Homo sapiens: one gene and its partners. The protein of the gene in region 6 interacts with the protein of the main gene of each other region in a biochemical or structural test. Each region holds a gene or a part of one and is shown on either strand. Other genes may lie near its edges.

Region 1 (3,500 bases), about 74 Mb from region 6:
ATATAAACAGGTATTTTGATCTCACCTTAATAAGAGCTCTCATATTTTAGTTATGACCACACAAATTAAACCTTCTTGCATATACACAATGGTACATCTATGACAATTAGAGATAAATGCCTAACCCCACTTCCTTTTGCAGCAGAGGGGTGATACAGATCTGTCAACAGCTATGAATGTTAAAATAATTTTAAAAATCCTACTAAAAGGGCAAGAATTCAAGTGCTGAGAATCCAAACAGACTTCATGGATCCCACAGACAGTCCAATGACCCCAGGGATGTTTCTAAAATTGTTGAACTCCTATGTTTACTGTTCTCTTTCCTTCATTATCATTTACAAAAAGTTATAACAAATGTCCTAGACTAAGCCAGAAAAGCTTTATCTGATGAAAGGGATCATTCGGAAAGCCAATGTATGATAAAGGATTGAAAAACAAAAAAGACAGCTGGAAATAACCACCATAATGTTTCAACAACATTTATACATCTTTTTAATTAGATTAGCTTTACAAGCAACTTGAGAGCTCTTTCATAATGAAACACTGCTTTTCAAATTACATGACTTTATAGTCTATCTGTATATGAATCCTGAAAATCTTTGCCTACTCTTGATAAAGGTCTGTGTTTTACAGCTGGTTAATGTGTTGAATAAAAACAGCATTATGAAGCTTTATCTTTAACCAGGATTAAACACATATAGGCCACAAACAGTTTTAAATTTTGTTTGAAATAGAGTCCTGCTTGGTGACAAGTTAATAGTCCCACTAACATGAAATGAATGGATATTAAATAAATGGCCATCCTGATTTCTTGATCTTTTCACAATGATTCCTAAGAGAGTATATAAACTTTTCCAAAAAATATACAATTTAAGACCTGTCTGGCAAGCACAACCCACAGATAGTAGAATCTAATACTTTTTACAACTGTAGAGGTACACATTTGAATGACAACAGGGGCTCCCAAATTAAAAGGCTGTGGCTGTACATTTTGACAATCAAACAAACCTCCCATCAACATAAAACAATTTCTACTAACCCTAAAAAAGATAATGCTTTTGAGTTGTGGCCTAACGCCGCGCACTGTACTATAGACCAGATGGCAAAGACAACTTGCGCTCCTGGGTTGGGCTGGCAGAGGCACTTACTGTAGAGATGTGATGTTATCATCTGGAAGGAAGGGGAGGAAGTAGAACAAAACTGAATATGGGCGAGGAAAAAACAATAAACTATCACTTTCTCCTGCAAATTCTCCTAAGTGAGATCACTATACTGAACATTCAATCCCATCCTAAGTCCACTGTTGGCTTCACTACACAATTTTTTTCCATGTTTTACATGAATAGCAATGGCAATCTTTTAATAAAAATTACTGAGCTTCCCATAGAAAAGGTCTCAAATTGAATACAAACTATACAGATGCTAAAAATGTCTTAAGTTGAAATATACAGAAAATTTCTGTATACTCACATTTTGGCAAAGAAGATCAAGGACAGAGATAGAAAACCTAAGTGGGCAAGGTCTTACACCCATAATTCACGCAAAATATGGATACCACCCTTTAGGTTTTGCTAAAAAGCCTAGGAAAGTGAAGTCTAAGACATCCGTCCCAATTCATTCTTTAAATAACATGTATGTGAGGCCTTGTGTGATTTTCTAATATTCCTTCCTTGTTTAAAAAGTAAATAAGAAAACCCATGAAACAAAATAAAATTATCTGATTTTGCATCTGTTTTGTTTTTTTCTAAGCTAAGCATCTTTCAGTACAGGTAAGAAGGCTGGCATCACATCTGGGAAATGCCTTAACAGATATCTGAGGAGTTACTGCACATTCCGTCAGTAACACCACACTTCAGTTTCAATGTGTACATAATCTCCCCTTGATGCTCTTCAACAGAGACAAGGTTCTTGTCTGCAGATCAGATAGATCACAGTATTAGGAAAAAAACATAACAGCAAATTTGGAAGTACAATCAATTTAAGGAGAAGCAAAAGGAAAAGACTTAGAAATGGGACATTATTGTCTACATCTAGAGGATACATACACCTGAAAGCTTAAGAAAGCCCTTATCTTAGGAACTTGAAGCTGAGGATAATCTCAAGTTCACTTAGTGCCAGTCACTTTAGTTTTTTAAAAAATTTAACTTAAACCCCAGCCTAGGCAACATGGCAAAACCCCGTCTCTACTAAACATACAAAAATTAGTCAGGCATGGTGGTGTGTGCCTGCAGTCCCAGCTAGTTGGGAGGCTGAGGTGGGAGGATTGCTTGAACCTGGGAGGCGGAGGTTGCAGTGAGCCAAGAATGCACCACTCCCCTCCAGCCTGGGTAACAGAGCAAGACTGTCTCAAAAAAACAAAACAAAACAAAAAAATTTAAACTCTTCTTGTGTCTTTTTCCTTGTAAAACATTAACTAAAAGTTATTGGTAGTAAATGGTGACTGTTTTACAATTAGGTTTCGTTATTGACAATGTCAAAAAAAAAGCAGCAATCTTTAACAGTTCAAATTAGTGTAAGGAAGGACTACAAAACAATCTGATTTTTCAGTTGTAATTAAAGTGCTCCTTTTCTTATTTTAAGTAAAATAAAATTAATCATCAGTCACTGGCAACAATCATTATTAAGAGGTCTTTTAGGGCAAAATTTAATAGTATGAACAGGTTTACAAAAATAGATTGATGTTATTTTGAGGAATAATACTGTAATTTTTTCTCAATTCAGTTTAGATAAATTGTACCTAATATAGAAAAATTATCCCAAATTCAAACTTGATATAAAAAAGGGAGAGATGAAATGAACTCAGCTAGATAACAGATCTGGCAAAATATAAGAATGAAAAAAATTCTACACAGGGCACTTATTTCATATCCAGATGTAAAAACCATTTTCAATTAGTAGCTTATCTTCCTCCTGTAAGCAATCACAGATTTGAAGTTGATCATGCAGTACAAAGTCACAGCAGTCAAAATCTTCTGTTTGATGCAACACAAAAAGTTGTTTCTGTTTCCTTATTAAAATGCGAACTGGTTGTCTATTTTTCTTTATCCCATTTATTCGTATTCACAAGTTAACAAATAGTTAACAATATTGTAGGTGAAGTGGGGTATTGCTGGATCAAAGGCTCTAGAAGACGTCTTTACCGACCGAATCTGAAGGTTTATTGAGTTCAACCCTCACACCTTTTTCACCTGCAAGGTAAAAAAAAAAAAAATTTTCATTCATTCACTAAGCACCAGAGAGCTTCTGCTACTGCATTCCACTGAATTCCTAAGAGTATGGACAATATTTCAACTTTGCAAACATCATCTGAGAACTATCACGCTTGTACTTCCAAAAACTTCCCTCAGCATTCTATTGTGATGAGGTTTCAAATAGTAAACCTTCAAGGATAAAACCATCCTCTACACAGAGATAATGATTTTGTCTTTTTATTTTAAAAGCCATTTGAGTTTCTTCAACAGAGTGTTCAGTGTCTCTGAAAGCACACTGAGCTTGTGCCA
Region 2 (3,500 bases), on a different chromosome or scaffold from region 6:
GTATGGTGGTGGGTGCCTGTAGTCCCAGCTACTCGGGAGGCTGAGACAGGAGAATTGCTTGAACCCAGGAGGCGGAGGTTGCAGCGAGCCAAGATCATGCCACTGAACTCCAGCCTGGGCAACAGAGTGACACTCTGTCTCAACAACAACAAAAAATTGATTATCTGAACATTTTTAATGGTACAGACAATTATTCTTTATATGTATTCACATACCTTAATTGGTTATTTAGATATTATTGTCTCTAGCATTGGGATGTGGACATTTTTCAGGAACATGTGTTTTTTTTCGTTTTTTATTTAAACAGTTATTTTTTTATAAAACTGCAATCTTTTTCAAAACTTCATTTTATGGTTAATATATTTGAAATTATGGACAACTTTAATTGATGCTTCACTATATGTTTTTAACTGAGAACACATTTCCTCTCTAGATACTGATGAACCTGTAAGTTCTGCTAAATGAAGAATCTTCTCATTTTTTAGATTAAAATATGTAAATATTTCAGGCCAATATCGTCATAGGTGCTGTCTTTCTACCTTCATTCAAAGCACTTTTGCTCAATAATTTCTTACAAGATAAAACTTTCAAGTTGTCTATATCTGTGATTGTTTCAACATTTCACCAAATCTAGATACTGCAAAATCATAGACTTTCACAATTTTTCTCCATTTTGGTAGAGAATAAAAATTTATCCAAATAAAATTAGAAGTCAAAATACATCAAAGTCAAGATTTTTCTGAAGCACAATTGTCAAAATAGATAATTAAACCATATCTGCTTTCATCTTTTGATTTGTTCAACTCCTTCTTCGCTTTTGTAGGGAGAAATTTGAGCTTCTTCCTTTGCAAGCCTTATTTTACATAATTGTAACTTGCTAAAAGCTTCAAAAGCTGAATTTTCATGCTACATTCATTCAGTAATCGATTAAAAATTTCCAACTGGTCTTGAACATAATGCAATCTAAATTTGGGTTGCTTTACAAAGTGGTTTTTCAAAGGCTCAGGCATTCCCAAAATCCAATTGATGACATGCAACACAGACAGGAATATACATATAGTCATTCTGAAATGTTTCCTTGCATGGTAGTGTTCAATATCAGCTTCTGTCAGAAAAGTTTTGTAGATCAGTTACTTATAAAATCTGTGTGTGTGTGTGTGTGTGTGTATATATATATTTATAATTTATACATTTTGACAATTTTAGTTTCTGTTTTGACTGACAGAATACCGCAGCTTGTTTGAATGCAGTCACAAATTTTGTGCACATTACAACCAATTCCAAGTACATTTCTGCTTCATAGCTTGTTAACTTGGTAAGAACATTTTTAACACAATGCTGTGCTCTATTAACATTTGTATTCATATTCTTACAACAAAAACAACAGTTTACCTTCAATGTTGAGCTTTTCAACTAAATTTACAGTGGCATTAACAATGTCAGATGTTTCACTTTTTGACTAGGAAATAAATTTTCACATATTTTATTTTGATTGTTTGAATTAGATAAAAAACAAAATTGAAACATTTCAGAATTAATACATTTTTGAATTGAGACCTCTAAGGAAATTATTATAAAAAACATTATTTGAAGGTTTGCAAAGGAAAATCACTCATTAATTATTACCAGTTTACTTACAAGTACAAGAAAACTTGGAATTGAAAATGAGCAAAATTAATTTATGAGTTATTTGATACTAATGGGAAGGTGTGCTTCACAATGACATGTACATAGGCCTCCTGCAGCTGCCGTGTTGAAGTCATTTTAAGGCATATTCTTCTTAAATTATTAACTTTGGAAATAGATGCCAAAGCTGCTTCACCATATTTGTACCTTCTGGTTTTCAAAGGGATAGTGATCTTTCTACTTGCCTGCATGGTACATGGTAAATATTGAAAAATATTTTCTGCACGTTGCATATTCATTATCAGCTTTCTTGAGACAATTAAACATGTGGGTTTTGTTTTGAGCTAACTGCTGAAAGGGTTTATTGTAAAATTCAAAAGGCATTACCATATAATAAAACAAATAGAGCTTCACATATACAAATAATAACAAAACTGCTTTAATAAAACAATTAGGTTACACTATACTCTATGGCAAAATTACTTAGCCTCTATTTCCTAAACATAATTTGTATGACATTAAGCCACAATTTCTCCCATTTTCTACTGACTCTGAGGAGGTTCCACGCATCTCACAGGCCACCCACCACACGACCACATGAGGGCATGAGTGGTGGTTCACAAAGTGGCCAGCAGGGGGAAAAGCCTCAGAAATTCTTCTGCTACCACCTAAGATCAGAAGAGGTACTTGTGCTTGAGCTCTTAGCTTTAACAGGCAGCACCCTGCATATAATTCTTGAAAGGTTGCTGCTAGCTAGGTTTCATCTGAACAGAATCAAGAAAAAAGACAAGTTATCATTAGCCATCTTTTGCATTTAACCATAATTAAGTCAGAATTTGGCTGGGGACAGTGGCTCGTGCTTGTAATCCCAGCACTTTGGGAAGCTGAGGCAGGCAAATCACCTGAGGTCAGGAGTACAAGACCAGCCTAGTCAACATGGTGAAATCCTGTCTCTACTAAAAATACAAAAATTAGCTGCGCATGGTGGTGCATGCCTGTAGTCCCAGATACTCAGGAGGCTGAGGCAGGAGAATCACTTGAACCTGGGAGGCAGAGGTGGCAGTGAGCCAAGATTGCACCACTGCACTCCAGCCTGCACGACAGAAAGAGACTCCATCTCAAAAAAAAAAAAAAGAGCACTGTTCACTGAATATGTGTTTCATACGCTGCTAGATGAGACCATGGAAGAAGCTGGAAGGAGGTCTGTTAAGCCATAGTGGCTTACTTAATGCAAATACTGATAAGAAAACTTTAAATAAAATTGAAGATCTGGGGTAAAAAGTAAAGTTAATAGGATGTGAGAAAAACAAGCATAAACCCAGGACTCTTTCAGGTAAACCAGGATATATGGTCACCCCAGAAAGATCAACATGAAACTATGGCTTTTACTCCAAATGAGATGGGAGTCATTTTGGGGTTTTGAGTAGAAGAATGACAGGGTCTGACTTTAGTTTTTAAAGGTGACCCTGGCTGCTTGAGAACAGACTGCAGTGGGGCAAAGGGCAGGAGACCACTTAGGAGCCTACAGCTATAATCTAACACTGAGAACAAAGACAATAGTTCCCTAGTAGAGAGATAAATTCGTATCGTTAAAATTGTGTATGTGTCTGGAGAAAAGAACAGTTAGGGCGTAAACTACCCCTGAGCTCAAATTTCAGGTCTGTGCTTCTGGCTATTTCATACAGGGAACAATGATGAATCAAAATATCATAGTACAAAATTACCAGCTATGAAGAGCATCTACTTAATTCATCTTACACTAATTCCATTCTCATCAAGCAACCTTTTAATTATAATGTACGTCCATATAGACTTATCCATAGGAAGAGAATGCATATATGAGTAAATATAGCTGTTTTACTTGATAGCTTTAA
Region 3 (2,590 bases), on a different chromosome or scaffold from region 6:
GTTTTTGGCTGGAGCTGCTGGGGGCCCGAAGGGGGTGGCCACTCGCACTGGGAAGGCGGAGTGGGGAGCTGGCTTAGGCAAGACCAGAGCATGATTGTGGGTCAATCAGGGTGGAAGCGTCCTCCAGTCACGTCTGGGGGCCCTGGGATGGGGGTAGAGGAGCCTGGAGCCACCAGCCCAGCCAGACATGCTGTCCTCTCTGTTCCAGGAGCCGCCCTGCCTGGAGCTAGCCTGGGGGTGAGCCAGGGTCCCCCAACCCCCGGGATGACCGCGGCCAGCCGGGCCAACCCCTACAGCATCGTGTCATTGGAGGAGGACGGGCTGCACCTGGTCACCATGTCGGGCGCCAACGGCTTCGGCAACGGCAAGGTGCACACGCGGCGCAGGTGCCGCAACCGCTTCGTCAAGAAGAATGGCCAGTGCAACATTGCGTTCGCCAACATGGACGAGAAGTCACAGCGCTACCTGGCTGACATGTTCACCACCTGTGTGGACATCCGCTGGCGCTACATGCTGCTCATCTTCTCGCTGGCCTTCCTTGCCTCCTGGCTGCTGTTCGGCGTCATCTTCTGGGTCATCGCGGTGGCACACGGTGACCTGGAGCCGGCTGAGGGCCACGGCCGCACACCCTGTGTGATGCAGGTGCACGGCTTCATGGCGGCCTTCCTCTTCTCCATCGAGACGCAGACCACCATCGGCTACGGGCTGCGCTGTGTGACGGAGGAGTGCCTGGTGGCCGTCTTCATGGTGGTGGCCCAGTCCATCGTGGGCTGCATCATCGACTCCTTCATGATTGGTGCCATCATGGCCAAGATGGCAAGGCCCAAGAAGCGGGCACAGACGCTGCTGTTCAGCCACAACGCCGTGGTGGCCCTGCGTGACGGCAAGCTCTGCCTCATGTGGCGTGTGGGCAACCTGCGCAAGAGCCACATTGTGGAGGCCCATGTGCGCGCGCAGCTCATCAAGCCGCGGGTCACCGAGGAGGGCGAGTACATCCCGCTGGACCAGATCGACATCGATGTGGGCTTCGACAAGGGCCTGGACCGCATCTTTCTGGTGTCGCCCATCACCATCTTGCATGAAATTGACGAGGCCAGCCCGCTCTTCGGCATCAGCCGGCAGGACCTGGAGACGGACGACTTTGAGATCGTGGTCATCCTGGAAGGCATGGTGGAGGCCACAGCCATGACCACCCAGGCCCGCAGCTCCTACCTGGCCAATGAGATCCTGTGGGGTCACCGCTTTGAGCCCGTGCTCTTCGAGGAGAAGAACCAGTACAAGATTGACTACTCGCACTTCCACAAGACCTATGAGGTGCCCTCTACGCCCCGCTGCAGTGCGAAGGATCTGGTAGAGAACAAGTTCCTGCTGCCCAGTGCCAACTCCTTCTGCTATGAGAACGAGCTGGCCTTCCTGAGCCGTGACGAGGAGGATGAGGCGGACGGAGACCAGGACGGCCGAAGCCGGGATGGCCTCAGCCCCCAGGCCAGGCATGACTTTGACAGACTCCAGGCTGGCGGCGGGGTCCTGGAGCAGCGGCCCTACAGACGGGGGTCAGAGATCTGAGCCAACCTTGGCCGACATGCAGCATCCACCCCTGGCCGGGGAGAGGCCCCGCGGTCGCTCAGGGGCCCTGGGTTTGAGCAGAACGGGCCCAGTGCCCTGGGTTGCAGACTCAGTAGCGTTTTAGTCGTTTTATGTTTCTTTGCAAAGGCCTCAGAAGGTTGGCCGGAGAGGGGGCAGCCAGAGCGGCAGCCCCCGGCCTCAGAGGCTATCACAGGCTCAGGGCAAAGAAGTGGCCTCCTGGGGGGCCAGGCCACGGGGGCCAGGGCTTCTGCCTGAAGATGGAGCTGCAGCCTGCGGGGAAGCAGCCCAGCTCGATGGTGGGCCCAGCCTCTGCTGTCCAAGGCTGGCTAGCTGCGGTGCTCCTTGCTGGTTTTTAACTTGGGGAGAAACACCGGGTTTCAGCTTTCTCGACCTTAGCTTGGGTGAGACTGTTTACAAAAAAAAAAAAAACCATGCAATTGGAGAAAAAAATTTTAATTCATAGGGGGCAAAAAGAACAATTAGAATTCCATGGGTCTGCCAGGATGCAGCAGCTGGCTGGAGGCTCCAGAGGGTTCCCCGAGGTGGGACCGGCCTCTCCCCGTGTATGTGGGCACTGCAGTCCCTGGGCAAGCAGGGTGCTCTGGGGCCGCACTTTGTCGAGCTCACGAGCCAGCTAGGCTCTGTTTGTGATAGAAAAATCAAGACCATGTTAATGATTGTAATAAAAGCTTTCTGCTGTCTTTGGGGTGCTGGGTGGGTCTGGGAAGAAAGTGGTTTGAGCTTTTAGAGTTTGCCTTTGTACCTTAGAGATGTGTCTCAGGGCCAGGCATGGGACCTGCCATCGAGGGTTCCTCCTCCCACCCTCGATTTTCCTGTTTTGCTTCTTTCTCCATTTCTGTCCAGGCCTCCGCCCAATTCCACAGTGAGGGGTGGTTAGGAGCCATAGGCCAGGATGCCTCCTTGGGAAGGGAAGTCAGGATCCCAGGCTAGGAGGAAGCTGGCAGCCCCGTCCCCACTGGGCCCACAGTGTGAGTCGTGCGTT
Region 4 (3,500 bases), on a different chromosome or scaffold from region 6:
TATTTTATTTTATTTTTTTTGAGACAGGGTCTCACTCTGTTGCCCAGGTTGAAATGCAGTGGCGCAATCACAGCTCGCTGAAGCCTCAAACTTCTGGGCTCAGAAGATCCTGTAGCCTCAGCCTCCCGAGCAGCTGGGGCTACAGATGTGTGCCACCATGCCCAGCTAATTAAAAACACACCTTATTTTTTTTTTTGGTAGAAATAGGGTCTCACTATGTTATGTTTGTAGAGATAGGGTCTTTCTACCAAATCATACTGCATCATTATACCTCACCCATTGCCATACCATCCACACCATTCTCATGCAGAACCAGCTTTTCACCCAACAACCCATGTGATCATCTACATTGTATCACTTGACAGTCCCCTAAGCCTATACAGTTCTACCAATGGGTTACCAATACCTGGAACCCAATCATTGAAAAGCTTCACCTTTTTTGATTTTAAGGTGATGTTTAAAGATTCCCTAATGAAAATCTTTTTTTTTTTTTTTTGAGATGGGTCTCACACTGTTGCCCAGGCTGGAGTGCAGTGGTGGCATCTCAGCTCATTGCAACCTCTGCTTCTTGAGTTCAAGCAATTCTCCTGCCTCAGCCTCCTGAGTAGCTGAGATTACAGGTGCCTACCACCGCACCTGGCCAATTTTTGTATTTTTAGTAGAGGCCAGGTTTCACCATTGTTGGTCAGGCTGGTCTCGAACTCCTGATCTTAAGTGATCCATTTGCCTCTGCCTCCCAAAGTGTTGGGATTACACACATGAGCCACTGTGCCAGGCCATGAAAATCTGTCTAAGCAGAACACAAAAGCTAGGAACTACAAAGGAAAAGACTTGAAGCTTTAAATATATAAACATTTAAAATTTCAATATGGCAAAAAAGAACAATAAAAATTTTCAAAAACAAATAGGAGAAATACTTACAATTCAAAATGACAAAGGACTAATTTCCTTAATCTACAAAGCCCTTGTACAGATTAATGAGAAAAAAGCATAAAACCCAACGGAAAAAAATGAGTTAAGGATACAAGCAGGCATTTCATGGAAACAAACAAAAAAAAGACCATTATGTTTACACAAAGGTGAACACCCTCATTCTTAATTTAAAAAATGAAAACAGGCTGGGTGCAGTGGCTCACACCTGTAATCCCAGCAGTTTGAGAGGCTGAGGTAGGCGGTTCACTCGAGGTTAGGAGCTTGAGACCAGCCTGGCCAACATGGTGAACCCCCCGTCTCTACTAAAAATACAAAAATTAAAAATTAGCTGGGCATGGTAGTGGGCACCTGCAGTCCCAGCTACCCAGGAGGCTGAGGCAGGAGAATCGCTTGAACCCGGGAGGTGGAGGTTGCAGTGAGCCGAGATTGCGCCACTGAACTGCACTCCAGCCTGGGCAACAGAGCGAGACTCTGTCTCAAAAAAAAAAAAAAGAAAGAAAGAAAAAAGAAAAAGAAAAAAGAAAAGAAAAGAGAAAAGAAAAAAAAGAAAAGGAAAAGAAAATTTCAAAGGAGGCTGGCAAATTCTCAGAGTTTGGCGATACTCAGTGCTCATGAGGGTGAGGGGAAATAGGTACTCTCATACTTTGTGGTAGGAGCATAAATTGGGCAATTTGGCAATACCAAGACCTAGATTTCAACTACCACTTCATGTGTTACAGACATTACAGACCCACTAGCTGTTTCTTTTCCCCTCACTCACAAGTAACATTCAGCACCACCGAAACGGACACGGACTGATCCCTCCCCAGCCTGCAGGTAAAGCTGATTCCGTTGTCATTTTCACTGATGGAAGAGACACAGACAGAGCTGGAATTGATTTTGTTTCCAGATTTCAAATCCACTCTCCCCTCCTCTCGGTACCAGAGCAGTTCTTCCTCTCTGGTGTGGTTTTGAACAGCACATATCAGAGATGCTTGGGAGCCAGGTGTAGTATCCAGGATATAGTTCTCAGTTTTACCATTCACAGTTAAAACAGAACCTGGGAGTATAGGGAGAAACTATTTAGATATACAGAGTAAACAACCTTAATGCTCATGAACAGGGGATTGGTTAAATAAGTTATGTTACATCAGTAGAACAAAATAAACTCTCAACGATTAAAAATAGTCATATTGATCTATATGATTTTATAATGAAAAATATTCATAATGTATTGTTAACTGAAAAAGAAAAAGATTAAAATGTGGTCATCAAATTTTTGTGCACATTGGAATCACCAGGGGATCTTTTAAAAAGTACTGATGTAGCTGGGTGCTGTGCCTATAATCCCAGGGCTTTGGGAGGTAGAGGCGGGAGGATCGCTTGAGCTCAGGAGTTCAAGATCAGCCTGGGTAACATAGTGAGACTCCGTCTCTACAAAAAATAAAAAAATAAAAAAAAAAACATTAGCCAGGCATGGTGGTGTGCACCCATACTTTTAGCTACTTGGGAGGATAAGGTGGGAGACTCGCTTGAGCCCAGGAGGTGGAGGTTGCAGTGAGCCAAGATCGCACCATTGAACTCCAGTCTGGGTGATAGAGCAAGACCTTGCCCCCAAAAAAAAGTACTGATGCCTGATTCTCATCCCCAGACATCTGATTAGTTGACATGAGTGCAATCTGGGCATTGTGTTGTTTAAAGGCACCCCACCCCCCGACCCCCGGTGATTTGAGAAGCATCAGGTTAGAAATCAATACATACAGAATGATCATACACATATGTGTGTATGTGTGTATACATGGAAGTATTTTTTCATGGAAAAAAGACAGGAAAAAACCCATATATATTGAATACACACACACGCATGCATATATGTATATACATATACACATACCATATTTAATTTGTTTACTTGAAGGGATTGAAAGTGGGAAAGCAAGGGAATGAAATGGAAAAATATTTAAGGTATAAACTTTAGGCAAAAAGGCAGAATATAAATTAAAGCTCTAATAATTACTACAAATGTATCAAAATTGCACATGCAGATGAGTAAGAACTGATTTGAAAACATTTTCTGCTTAAATGATAGGATTATGGACAAATTGGGTCTTGCATCTATAATGTTTTAATATTGTTTTGGCAGTGAAGAAAAATAAAAAGATGTTTAAGTAGTTGAGGTTTGTGTGGTAGACCAGTCTTTGTGGGTTGGGTGATCAGGATACATACCAGGTTTTTTTTGTTTTGTTTTGTTTTTCAGCTCTGACTTTTAGAAACCTATTCATTGCATAGTAATACACCTGAATTTCGGTTTTTATTTTTCTGATTCAGAAGCAAGTAACAAAAGCTAAAAAAGAACTTTATCTGTCATAAACCTGTACCCCAGATAACATTTGTTAATATGTTCTGTAAACACATTAACCTTCCTTTTAAAACACTTAAGCTGGCCGGGCATGGTGGCTCATGCCTGTAATCCCACACTTTGGGAGGCTGAGGCGGACGGATCACCTGAGGTCAAAAGTTTGAGACCAGCCTGGCCAACATAGTGAAACCCTGTCTCTACTAAAAATACAAAAAAATTAGCCAGGCAT
Region 5 (2,635 bases), on a different chromosome or scaffold from region 6:
TTTTTGAGTGGTATTTTAGGTGTACTGAAAAATCTTTTTTATGACTCCATCATGAACATTTTAGAAACCTCGTGATTTTGCTTATAGACCCATATGTGGGATGTTGTTAGACCTTCCCAAATTATGTGTGAGAAATGGGTGATAAAATGCTAACATTTAAATAACTCTCCAATATATGATGGTATAGAAATTAGGCATGAAGTTCTCTACTCTCATTTTGATGGACCCGTGGATTTAGGCATATGCAGTCTTGGGGAGTAGAGAGCTTGGTGCCATATATTTAAATGCTGGCATTACTGAGGTTGGGGGCAGGGGGTCACAGAAGACCCAAAATGAACAGTTCATCTCTGGAATAAGGTGGAGTTGACAAATCTAGGTTGAATAGCATGTTTTCCTTGACATGATTTATCCTTGCTTTGACTCTGGCTATCCTGAGGTTGTGTAGTTACCCCATATGTATAACTGGCTTGGTTTATTAATCCTGTGGCTGAAGACTGTGCAACTGATTTAGTATTTATTGAGCTCCCACAACATGCCAAACACAGTATAAACCCCAGCATGTAGAGCTTCACATGTGATTCAGCAACACATGCATTTTACACACATAGCAAAGACATCAACGCATGAAGGTAAATCAATCAAGAACCTGCCTTGGGAAACAAAGGTGCTCCTGACCTCTCGTCTGTGAGGGACAGGCCCTGTGTTCACTCCCAGATCTAGCCACACTCTTGAGGTTAGTTTTGTGCCTTGCATTTGAAAGACTAACAGATGTTCAGGAATGCAAACCACAGGACAGAGGTCGTGGGTGAGCCTACCTGAGAAAATAAACCTGGAACTTAGCTATCCCAGTAAAACAGCAGATTGAAAATTCACAAGGACAAAAAATCAGACGGTTATAGGAACTGGAATATCCTTACCTTAGCATCTCTCACAATTGCTATTTCCAGGTAGCTGTTGGAGCATGCATTGAAACACTCTTCTGCCAGTTTAATGAGATAAATCTATTGATTGGCTGCCAAAAGTGTGACCTGGTGACAAAGCTTGCAAAGAGGATTACAGAACCTCCCATCAGCCTTGAGAAGGGCTGCTGCCAAGTACCAAGTTGGCTCAGTTCCCAGCCTGACTGCCTGTATTACTCCTTGCAGGAAGAGGACTGTGTATACATCTTAGATGCTTGATATTAACCAAAATGAATTATTAAATAAAATTTTCTACCTACAGTCCTACGCAGTTCTCTCTGGGACTCACCTCTGATTTTTTTGAAATTCGGTTTGATTTATAAACTAGTCCACAACACATTTCAGATGTTGTAAGAATTAATTGCTGTTCCGTTGCTGATTTTCATAATATGTAAAGATGTTTATAAGCACAATCTAATTCTCCAACCTCTTTAAGCTCTTTATAAAGTCCATGTAAGTGTTTCAAACTTAAGTTGTAGGCATGACAGAAACCAGTGGCAGCTTTTCTAGTAATTAATGGAGATGCTTGTTTTTCATAGTTGATATAAACTTAAGCTAATCAAGGAGCACTTTTTCTAACACCCTGACAACCAGGATTTAAAATAATTCATGGTATGTAAATTTGTTTTTTGTTGTTTTTTGTTGTTTTTGTTTTTTTTGTTTTTTTGAGACTAGATTTTGCTCTGTCACTGAGACTGGAGTGCAGTGGTGTAATGATAGCTCACTGCAGCCCAGTGATCCTCCCAGGCTCAAGTGATCCTCCTGCCTTTGTGTCCCAAGTAGCTGGGACCACAGGTGTGCACCACCACGTCCGGCTATTTTTTGTAGAGATGGAGTTTTGCCATATTTCCCAGGCTGGTCTTGAACTCCTGGGCTCAAGCAATTCTCCCTCTTCGGTCTCCCAAAGTTTTGGAATTATAGATGTGAGCCATGGTACCTGGCCATGGTATGTAACTTTATAATACAATTGACCTAAGGTTGAATGATGATATTCCTTCTGAATTGATTGGACTGATACATAAGAAATATGTAAGTAAACTGTTGAACGAATCCCTATATATTCTGATTTCAATAATTTGCCTCTTTGTGATTGAGCTGGTATTGCCTGAAGACTAAAAGAGTATTCTCTAAGTATGGCATGTAACACCGTCAAATTCAGCTCCAAATTATTAACACCTTTGGCAGGTACAACTAAAGCTTCATTCGGATGTTTCTGAGATTCATTAGAAAGAGGATTCCCGCCCCCACCCCCCACCCCGAGATGGAGTCTTGTTCTGTCACCCAGGTTGGAGTACACTGGCACAATCTCAGCTCACTGCAACCTCTGCCTCCCTGGGTTCAAGCAATTCTCCTGCCTCAGCCTCCCGAGTAGCTGGGATTACAGGCGTGCGCCACCACGCCTGGCTAATTTTTGTATTTTAAGTAGAGACAGGGTTTCAACACGTTGGCCAGGCTGGTCTCAAACTCCTGACCTTGTGATCTGCCTGCCTCGGTCCCCCAAAATGCTGGGATTACAGGTGTAAGCCACCATGCCCAGCCCTAGAAAGGATAATTCTTAAGGTGCTTAATCTTGGTTGCACATTAAAATCCCCTGAAGTGCTTTGGAAAATGCTAGTGTCCAGGCACCATCTCAAATCAACTAGACTCTTGGGAGGAGAGCCCAGACATCAATTACA
Region 6 (3,500 bases):
CAAAGCATTCTGGTTTCAGAGGCTGAAAGAACGTAATAGCTAAAAGGAATCAAATCTTAGAGGCTGGCTAGCCTAATTCCCTCATTTTTCCAAATAAGCAAACTGAGGTCGAGGGCAGGTAAGCACCTTTGCAAGGTCATTCACCCAGCTGCTAACAAAGCTGGCTCCATCATCCACGTCTACTAACTCAGATGTTGTGTTCTTTCCTCAGAACTCCAAACCTCCTTTCACAAAAGATCTAACATGACTTTTTATGAAGTTATACTTTTTTCTTTTTGAGACCAGGATCAGCAACTTCTTCAGTACGGTTTACCCCATGGGGCAAAGGAGTGATCTTGCATGCCACTAGCAGGTGTATGCTTGGGTCTTTTATCAATATAGTGATTGACAAAAGAAGGAACACCACAATCCACAGCAAAAAGAGTTTCCAAGCCACGTGATATATCTTTGAGTTAAGCTTAAAAAATAATAAACCAATAAAAATGAATTTTTAAAGGCAATGCTACTATGAAGAGGTGAAACAGATTCAGTCAATATAGATTAAAATAACTCCTCTTACGTTTATAGAACTCAACAGTTAACAAAGCCTTTTCACAAACATCAGATTATCAGAACATTAAAGCAGCAAGAAACACTATACAAACTAGAGTTTCTAAACTCCATTCCACAGAGGCTGTGAGCTTCCAGAACTCCTTTACCTTTATACTAACTAGGAGATTAGCTATGTGCTGTTCACAAAATCTTTTTATTTTTGATGAACTCGTATTGTCATTTAATTTTTCTTATTTCTTGTCTATTAAAAAAGCTAAACAAATACATTAATAAAAGGGCACTCTTTCAGAAATGTTTTTGAGTATCTGAAGTTAAGCTTAGTCTGCTCCTTCTCATAATGGTGATTAATTGCCAAATGTTTCAGCTGCAAATCCATTGTGTCTCTCATCTCACACCCCTAGATGGGAACAAGGGTACATTTTGGAAAAGACTCAGCATTTCCGGGACTTATCATACGTAGCTCTGGATCCCTGTCTCCATTCTGGGAGGCCAACCTTCTAATCTAGGTAGAAACTCAGCTAAATGTCTGGGGACTTCTTGGTCCCAGGAGTCAATAAAGACCAGAAGCCAAGGTGCGAAGAGACCCCTGACAGAGAACAGTTGCTGGGTCTAGATTTATTTTGAATTAGGAAAGTCATACGCTTTTAAGACAAGGAATGGCTGGAGATCACAGAACAAATCCTTTCTATCCCCATCACTAACAGACATTTAAGGTGAGCCAAGGTAGATGAAGTCTCTCTCATTCATCAGAGTTCCTGGGAAGGAGATTCAGTAACCCTTCTCTTCTCACATTCTTCTAGTACCCTATCTATTGGAAAAATACTCCTTCCTCCTGACCCCATGCACTTCTACAACAATAAAGCCAGTTCACTCTGCTTAAATTCTTCAAAATGATATAAAGATTTCAGTCACCTTGTTTTGTTTTGGGATACTTAGCTCAGAAAGTTGTGCACGAAGCTAAATCAAATCTGTGAATTTACCATCTATAATTTATATAGAGTTTACAGTTTAGAAAACAATTTGAAATACATTATCTCGTTTGATTTGCTCCTTTCAATAGGCTTGTGAGAGAGATGAAACAAACATTATAATCCTCAAATGACACACCATATAAAAATGTTTGAGAACTGGATTGTACTTTATAGAAATGAACTACTACTGCTTTACATGAGGAAGCCAGAGGAGGCATGTGACTTCCCCAAGGTCACATAGTTAAGGGGAAAGCCAGGACTCAAACCACAAACTCTTGGCTTAAAGTACTTTGGTTTGATCCTCACATGAACTAACTTTGGGCAGAGGAAAGATGTTTCATGGATGCAAACCCCTAACCCTCCTGTCCATCTCAAAAACATTTGCCATGGGGGAACCAGGCTAACAGATATAGATGGCTTAGCAAAACTCATGACCACTCCTGTAAAAATAATTTAGTATCATTATCTCTGTTTGCAATAGCAAACACATTTTTAGAAACTCTTGAAAGGAATATATATTAATGGGCAGTAAGTTGCCCATGGACAAAAACTGAAAGGGACATGAACAGCTACACTTTAGCCCATCTTTCAGTAACAACTGATTAACACTGAAAGATAAAGAATAGTTGCAAATACTTTATGCTTTCTATGGACCCAGGAGTCACTCTTGAACAGGGTGCTACAGGAGATGAAAGACTGCCAAGTAAATATTCCAAAATTTTCTTACTCTCAGCTACAATCTCTTTCCAAATACATAGTCCTTTATTATGTCATTTATTTTCTAGAAAATACACATTACCTAGGAAACCTTCTCTAATTGACCTTATTTGACTACATTTGAAATTAACACGTGAATGTTGAAACAACCCGCAATGAAATAATTTGTACTTGCTGATCTGTTCATTCACTCTAACATTCATTTGTCAAACATTTCTTGAGTACTCACCTCATGCAAGACACTAAGCTAGGCACACAGGATTTCATACAGGCAAACCAAACTGTCCCTGCTTGTGAGGGGCTTACAGTCTGGTGTTGCTTTATGTGGTCTTCAAGAGTCTTACGTGTTTCCCAGTCCCCCAGTTGCATGCTCTCTCTGTGAGCAAGTACTGTACACCTTAATTTTCTAAAACTCTCCTATAGCACCTTACACTAGGCTCTCTACACAGCAAACTGATAAACTGAAAGAATACTAGACTCCATAATCCGCAGCGTATTATTCCTTTCAGTGTGATTTAAATCTGTAAATTATTTAAAATCCATAGAGTCTTGAGGCTGATGTTGCCCAAAGTTACAATTGAATAAGCCTACAGTTAAGGGAGTAAGATTCAGTGCAGCTAGCTGGGGATGTCTGAAGGGGATCTGAGTCCTACCACTCTTAATGGGGAAGAGAATCAGGCAGGGTGGAGGTGAGGAATACCCTTACCCTGCAAAGCTGCACTATCTTACAAGAGAAAATAGTGCTTTAACTATAGGACTTACAGGTATGAGCCCCAAGACTGAACCCCCAAGGTAGGAGCCCCAAGACAGAAAAGTAGAAGGGAAGACCTTGACTGCTGACGGGCACTTTACCCTACTACCAAAGAGAAAGGAGAAAACGGTGCCCCACACATTCTACAGGACCAGTACAGAAGCCTAGTTAGACATGATGGGGCAATGAAAGAGCTACAGATTCAGACTCAGAAGACCTGTGTTTGAGTCTTTGAGTCCAGATTCTGCCACTAGCCAGGCAAGATGGCACTGGGCAAGCCAGGTAGCCTCTCTGAGCCTCAGTTTCCCCTTCTGTGAAACATGAATAATAACCTCTGATGCTTCTGTCTACCTCACACAGAACCACTGTGAGATTCAAATGAGATATGTTCTACGAAAGCACTTAGGAAACTGTAATGTGCTGGGCAAATCCTGAGATTTTTATCTATGAGGATATCCAAACCCCCAGGAGTGTCTCACATCAACCCAGGAAGGCTCACCGCCTCCTCC
Region 7 (4,115 bases), on a different chromosome or scaffold from region 6:
CCAATTATGATGCTGCCAGTTCTTTCCTACCTGTCTGCAACCCGGTCTTTAGTATATCTATTTGAAAGTGTAATTTTAACCTAAGAAAATACTTACTATGGTTGCTTTAAAAAGTAACAGAATGGGCACCTTTTCAGATCCTACTTGAGTAATCCTCATTCTGCTCTCTCTCAGCAGTGAACATTAGAAAGAATTGCCTGATGCAACATAAACAGTTTCACTTAATGCAGAATCCGTTTCTCTTATTTGCTGAGTTGGAAAGAGGCAATTCATTGCATTTTGGTAACATAGTAATAAATAGAAAGTTTAACAGACGAACCTGGGTGCTTTGGAAGCACAAATTCACCTCCTGCTCCCCTCTGTTACAAAAGCAGAGCCAAGATTGTATGGGGTTGATTGAGGTCCTTGAAAAACTACATACACACACACACACACACACACACACACACACACACACACACACAGATTTTCTCTCTCTCCCTATGTATATTGTGAAAGTTTATGAAAACAGCATCTTCCAGGGACCAAAATGTGGATTTTAGGTGACATTCAATTCTTCCTTCGACCTCACAGAGAGAGCTTCAGAGACTCCTTGACCCTGTGGGTTTCTTTTATCCCAGACTATATATTTGCTTTGAAACGAACTTCGTACTATGTAAATATATTAACATGCCTTTTGATTTAGAATAAGCAGATTTTAAAGACATGATGAAAGGTACCATGTGACATCATTTATATCTCAGTTTTTAAAGAGTTTATGGGAAAGGAGACATAATATAAATCATCAATAAAACATCAAAAAACCTATGACACCAACAATAGACAATTATGAATGCTGATATATAAATCTGTCATTCTTGTTAAATGCCATGAAGATAAATATATGGCAATAGAAAAGTGGGTCTGGGTGTGCCATGTCAATGTTGTAATCATTTCACATTTGAAGCCAAGGGTTAACATGCACAATCTCTAAAAAGAGCATTATCAATTAGTCTATGTCTCTCCTACTCTTATAATAAACTCGGGTAAAGTTCAGAGGTTCTATCTTTCAGGCTGGTTTCCCCGCTTCAGGCTTTTCCTGAGGGAGTAATAACCTTGCTAAACACTTAACCATCACCAGGTACATGACTGCGATCCAAAGAGCCCAGGTTGTAATAGGGAAAAAGCCCTTCTAGTCTCATTCTAAGAGACCATGGAGAAAGATCAGCATCTGTGAATTCAGCTCAGTACCTGCATATGTGGGACATGATCATGACCATTTGTCCGAGTCGATGTGTGTCTAGGGAGGGAGGGAGGTGTCCACTTTGAAGCAGAGATCTGACTGATGCCCCTCCATTTGCATTTCTTGGTTCCTTTAAGGAAGACAGGCAAACAAATCTGGCCATTTCTTAAGTTTGAAGGATACAAGACAAAGAAGGTAAATGGGGACCCTGGTTCCTGAACCTTCATGATCCGGCTCCTGGCTCTCTATTTCTGAAGGTGGCTTTTGACGAAGGGCAGGTATCCTTGGTCCGAGGGCCACACTAATCGATTTTAAGGAGGCCTGGGAGCAGGTTCCCCACGGATCTTAAAATCTACCCAAGAATGGAGCAAATCATTGTCCAGGGATAGGACAAAGCTGTGGTTCAGGAAAATATTCCCAGTGAAAGGATGTTTTTGGTCATCGCAGGCAGCACCTTGTCCTATCAACCCTGGAGCTTCTCCCCATTGCATTTCCTCTTCCAAAACAATCTGTTGCTGGCCTCCCTCTGCTCCCTACCACCCTGAGCCCACAGCCAGCCAGTCAATGCTTCTCCGCCTACAGCAGCCCAGCATCTTCATTCAACCCGCACTTCGCTGCCCCTTGCCCCTCAGCAGCACTCAGGCAGTGAAATGGACCGCACCGGCCGCCTGTAGACTTACCCTGAGCCAAGTGGTTTTTTCGGATAAAATCTGTGTCGTCTGGATGTCCACCGGCCAGGATGCGTGGTGCGGCGCCTTGCCGGACTCCTCTTTTGCGGCGCGAAACAGCAGCCGACTGGGACAGCCCGGGGCCTCTAGGCTGATGGGTGGGTGGGCGGATGAGCACAGGGAAAGGGGCGGGGTGTAAAGACGAGCGCAAGTACTGGCTCCTACCTTGGCTTCCCCTTTGGATGCTCAGTTATTGCCAAACTTGCCTGTAACAGATCGGCCCTCCTCACCTTTCACCTTCGCCAGTGCCCTGAAACTCTTTGCTCTACCAATGTCCCTACCCTGTTCTCCCAGCTCTCTAACCCAACCTGAGCCCCTTCAAGCGCACCCACTCCCTTCACGCAGCCAGTCACACACAATAAGAGCTAGGGAAGAAACTGACACGGGGAAACTGACAGGGGTAGCTGACACTGTAGTGTGAAGGAGAGGGAGAAGGAGGGAGGAAGGAAGGGATGGAGAGAGAGGGGAGAGAGAGAGAAAAAAAGAGAGAGAGCCGCATTCACACTCTTACACGCACACTCAAGCTCCAGCTGTTAGGTAGCGGCTGGCGGGAGCGCTGGCTACCCCTCCAAAACCCTTTTCTACACTAGAGGTTTCTGTCCCCTTCTGCTGCCGTTTCTGGAATATGCTATACAGAGAAGGGGAGAGAAAAGCAAAGAGGGGTGGGGAGGGGAAAATCAAGGAGGCACGCTCCCTTTATCCTCCCCACCCCTGTCTCCAAAAATGTCCAACCCTGAGCTCTTCCTTTTCCCTTCTTTCTGCGCCCGGCTTCCCTCTGCTCCTGTTCTTTATTCCTCCCTTTGGGGTGGCTGCGAGCTGCGGACAACCCGTCGTGGTTGTGATGTGGGGTGTGTGTGTGTGTGTGTGTGTGTGAGAGAGAGAGAGAGAGAGAGAGAGAGAGAGAGAGAAAGAGAGAGAGAGAGAGAGAGAGAGATTGAGACAACCGTGGTAGGCAAAAGCACCCCTCACCTCCCCCAGCCCCCGGGCCGAAGCCACTCTCAATCTCCTGGCGGCGGGGCGGGGCGGGGGAGGCGGGGAGGCGAGAGGGAAAGAGGGAGGACGGGGCAGGCGGCAGGGGCAGCAGCTCCTGCCTTCTTTGCAGCTCCGCGGCCAGGGGTGGAAGGAAGCCGCAGCCGCAGCCCCAAGTCAACCCCCGCTGCCCCGTCCCACCGTCTCATCTCTCCCCCCTCGGTACGGAATTTTCTGTCTCGTTTGTTTGCTTCCCCAGACCTCCCCCTCCCCTGGGTGGTGGCAGAGACGGGAGGGGAGGTGGGAGGCTAAGCGCGGGTGCGGGTAGAGGGGACAGGAGTCCCTCGGAGCATATGGCTAGCAGAGTCTCTCTTTGCCCCTTGGCCTGAATATCCCCTGCTTTGGGCAGTGACCTTTGCCCACCCCCGTCAGCCTGGGCTCTGGGCCGGTGGTGGCGAGGCTGCTCCGGCGACCATAGGTCATTCAGGAGGAAGGGGAGTTGAACCTGGGGGAGTAAGGGCGGCGGGCGGCTGGTAGGACAGGGAGACAGCGGAGCGCTGAGTCGCCAGGGACTGACCTGGGGTCCTATGGGGCAGGCTTGGATCCCTGATAGATCTAGATTAATCTAGTTGGAGCTACCTAATTCTCCCATCCGTGCCCCTCTCACCCATAGGGTCGATCTCCCAAGATCCAGCCTAGATTGATACAGGGAGGGAAAGTGATATTGTAGGATGGGGGCGGGGGGCTAGGTTGCTTAGTGGTATCTGTTGTGGAGGGAGAGGGGCGGTGTCACCGGACACTTGGGCCACTCTTTGATCTTTACGCCTTCCTTTCACATGAAGCACCTCTCCACTTCTTTCACCTTATAGCCTGGCGCTCAGAATGTCCACCCTCTTGAGCCCAACTGGAAGGGGCTAAATAGCCCCACCCCCACCACAAGCCTGAGACTTCTACCTGCAACCTGCAGGCGCATAGGTCCACTAGCTGGCAGCATTTCATGGCCTGGCCGCACAGCCCCAAATATTGGCTTTGTCTTTTATCTCCCTTCCTAGCGCTCTCAGGAAAGGGGCATGTGAGTCTCTGCCTTTCTGGACGCCGGGCTGGTACCTGAAAACCTTTCCCTACCCATTCTCAGAACAATCCCTAGCTCTGAGAAAACTCCACTGTACTTCCTGTTGCTCTTTAACCCCCTCTGC

Evidence for each region.
Region 1: the proteins of ARHGEF11 (region 6) and EGLN1 interact in a test that uses a peptide from one of them, tested with the Homo sapiens proteins (one large-scale study listed by IntAct).
Region 2: the proteins of ARHGEF11 (region 6) and LPXN interact in a test that uses a peptide from one of them, tested with the Homo sapiens proteins (one large-scale study listed by IntAct).
Region 3: the proteins of ARHGEF11 (region 6) and KCNJ18 interact in a test that uses a peptide from one of them, tested with the Homo sapiens proteins (one large-scale study listed by IntAct).
Region 4: the proteins of ARHGEF11 (region 6) and TMIGD1 interact in a test that uses a peptide from one of them, tested with the Homo sapiens proteins (one large-scale study listed by IntAct).
Region 5: the proteins of ARHGEF11 (region 6) and PRLHR interact in a test that uses a peptide from one of them, tested with the Homo sapiens proteins (one large-scale study listed by IntAct).
Region 7: the proteins of ARHGEF11 (region 6) and TRPC5 interact in a test that uses a peptide from one of them, tested with the Homo sapiens proteins (one large-scale study listed by IntAct).

What each region holds. Positions count from the first base shown.
Region 1 is NC_000001.11:231,363,288-231,366,787, forward strand, and holds the end of EGLN1 (egl nine homolog 1), read right to left. Parts: intron 3,189-3,500; coding exon 3,124-3,188; 3' UTR 469-3,123; downstream 1-468. UniProt on the Homo sapiens protein: Cellular oxygen sensor that catalyzes, under normoxic conditions, the post-translational formation of 4-hydroxyproline in hypoxia-inducible factor (HIF) alpha proteins.
Region 2 is NC_000011.10:58,565,857-58,569,356, forward strand, and holds part of LPXN (leupaxin), read right to left. Parts: intron 1-3,500. UniProt on the Homo sapiens protein: Transcriptional coactivator for androgen receptor (AR) and serum response factor (SRF). Contributes to the regulation of cell adhesion, spreading and cell migration and acts as a negative regulator in integrin-mediated cell adhesion events.
Region 3 is NC_000017.11:21,702,523-21,705,112, forward strand, and holds the end of KCNJ18 (inward rectifier potassium channel 18), read left to right. Parts: intron 1-208; coding exon of another isoform or gene 209-264; coding exon 265-1,566; 3' UTR 1,567-2,090; downstream 2,091-2,590. UniProt on the Homo sapiens protein: Inward rectifier potassium channels are characterized by a greater tendency to allow potassium to flow into the cell rather than out of it.
Region 4 is NC_000017.11:30,327,558-30,331,057, forward strand, and holds part of TMIGD1 (transmembrane and immunoglobulin domain-containing protein 1 isoform 1 precursor), read right to left. Parts: intron 1,973-3,500; coding exon 1,694-1,972; intron 1-1,693. UniProt on the Homo sapiens protein: May control cell-cell adhesion, cell migration and proliferation, cell morphology, and protects renal epithelial cells from oxidative cell injury to promote cell survival.
Region 5 is NC_000010.11:118,589,497-118,592,131, forward strand, and holds the end of PRLHR (prolactin-releasing peptide receptor), read right to left. Parts: 3' UTR 501-2,635; downstream 1-500. UniProt on the Homo sapiens protein: Receptor for prolactin-releasing peptide (PrRP). Implicated in lactation, regulation of food intake and pain-signal processing.
Region 6 is NC_000001.11:157,039,243-157,042,742, forward strand, and holds part of ARHGEF11 (rho guanine nucleotide exchange factor 11), read right to left. Parts: intron 1-3,500. UniProt on the Homo sapiens protein: May play a role in the regulation of RhoA GTPase by guanine nucleotide-binding alpha-12 (GNA12) and alpha-13 (GNA13). Acts as guanine nucleotide exchange factor (GEF) for RhoA GTPase and may act as GTPase-activating protein (GAP) for GNA12 and GNA13.
Region 7 is NC_000023.11:112,079,977-112,084,091, forward strand, and holds the start of TRPC5 (short transient receptor potential channel 5), read right to left. Parts: upstream 2,801-4,115; 5' UTR 1,903-2,800; intron 1-1,902. UniProt on the Homo sapiens protein: Forms a receptor-activated non-selective calcium permeant cation channel. Mediates calcium-dependent phosphatidylserine externalization and apoptosis in neurons via its association with PLSCR1.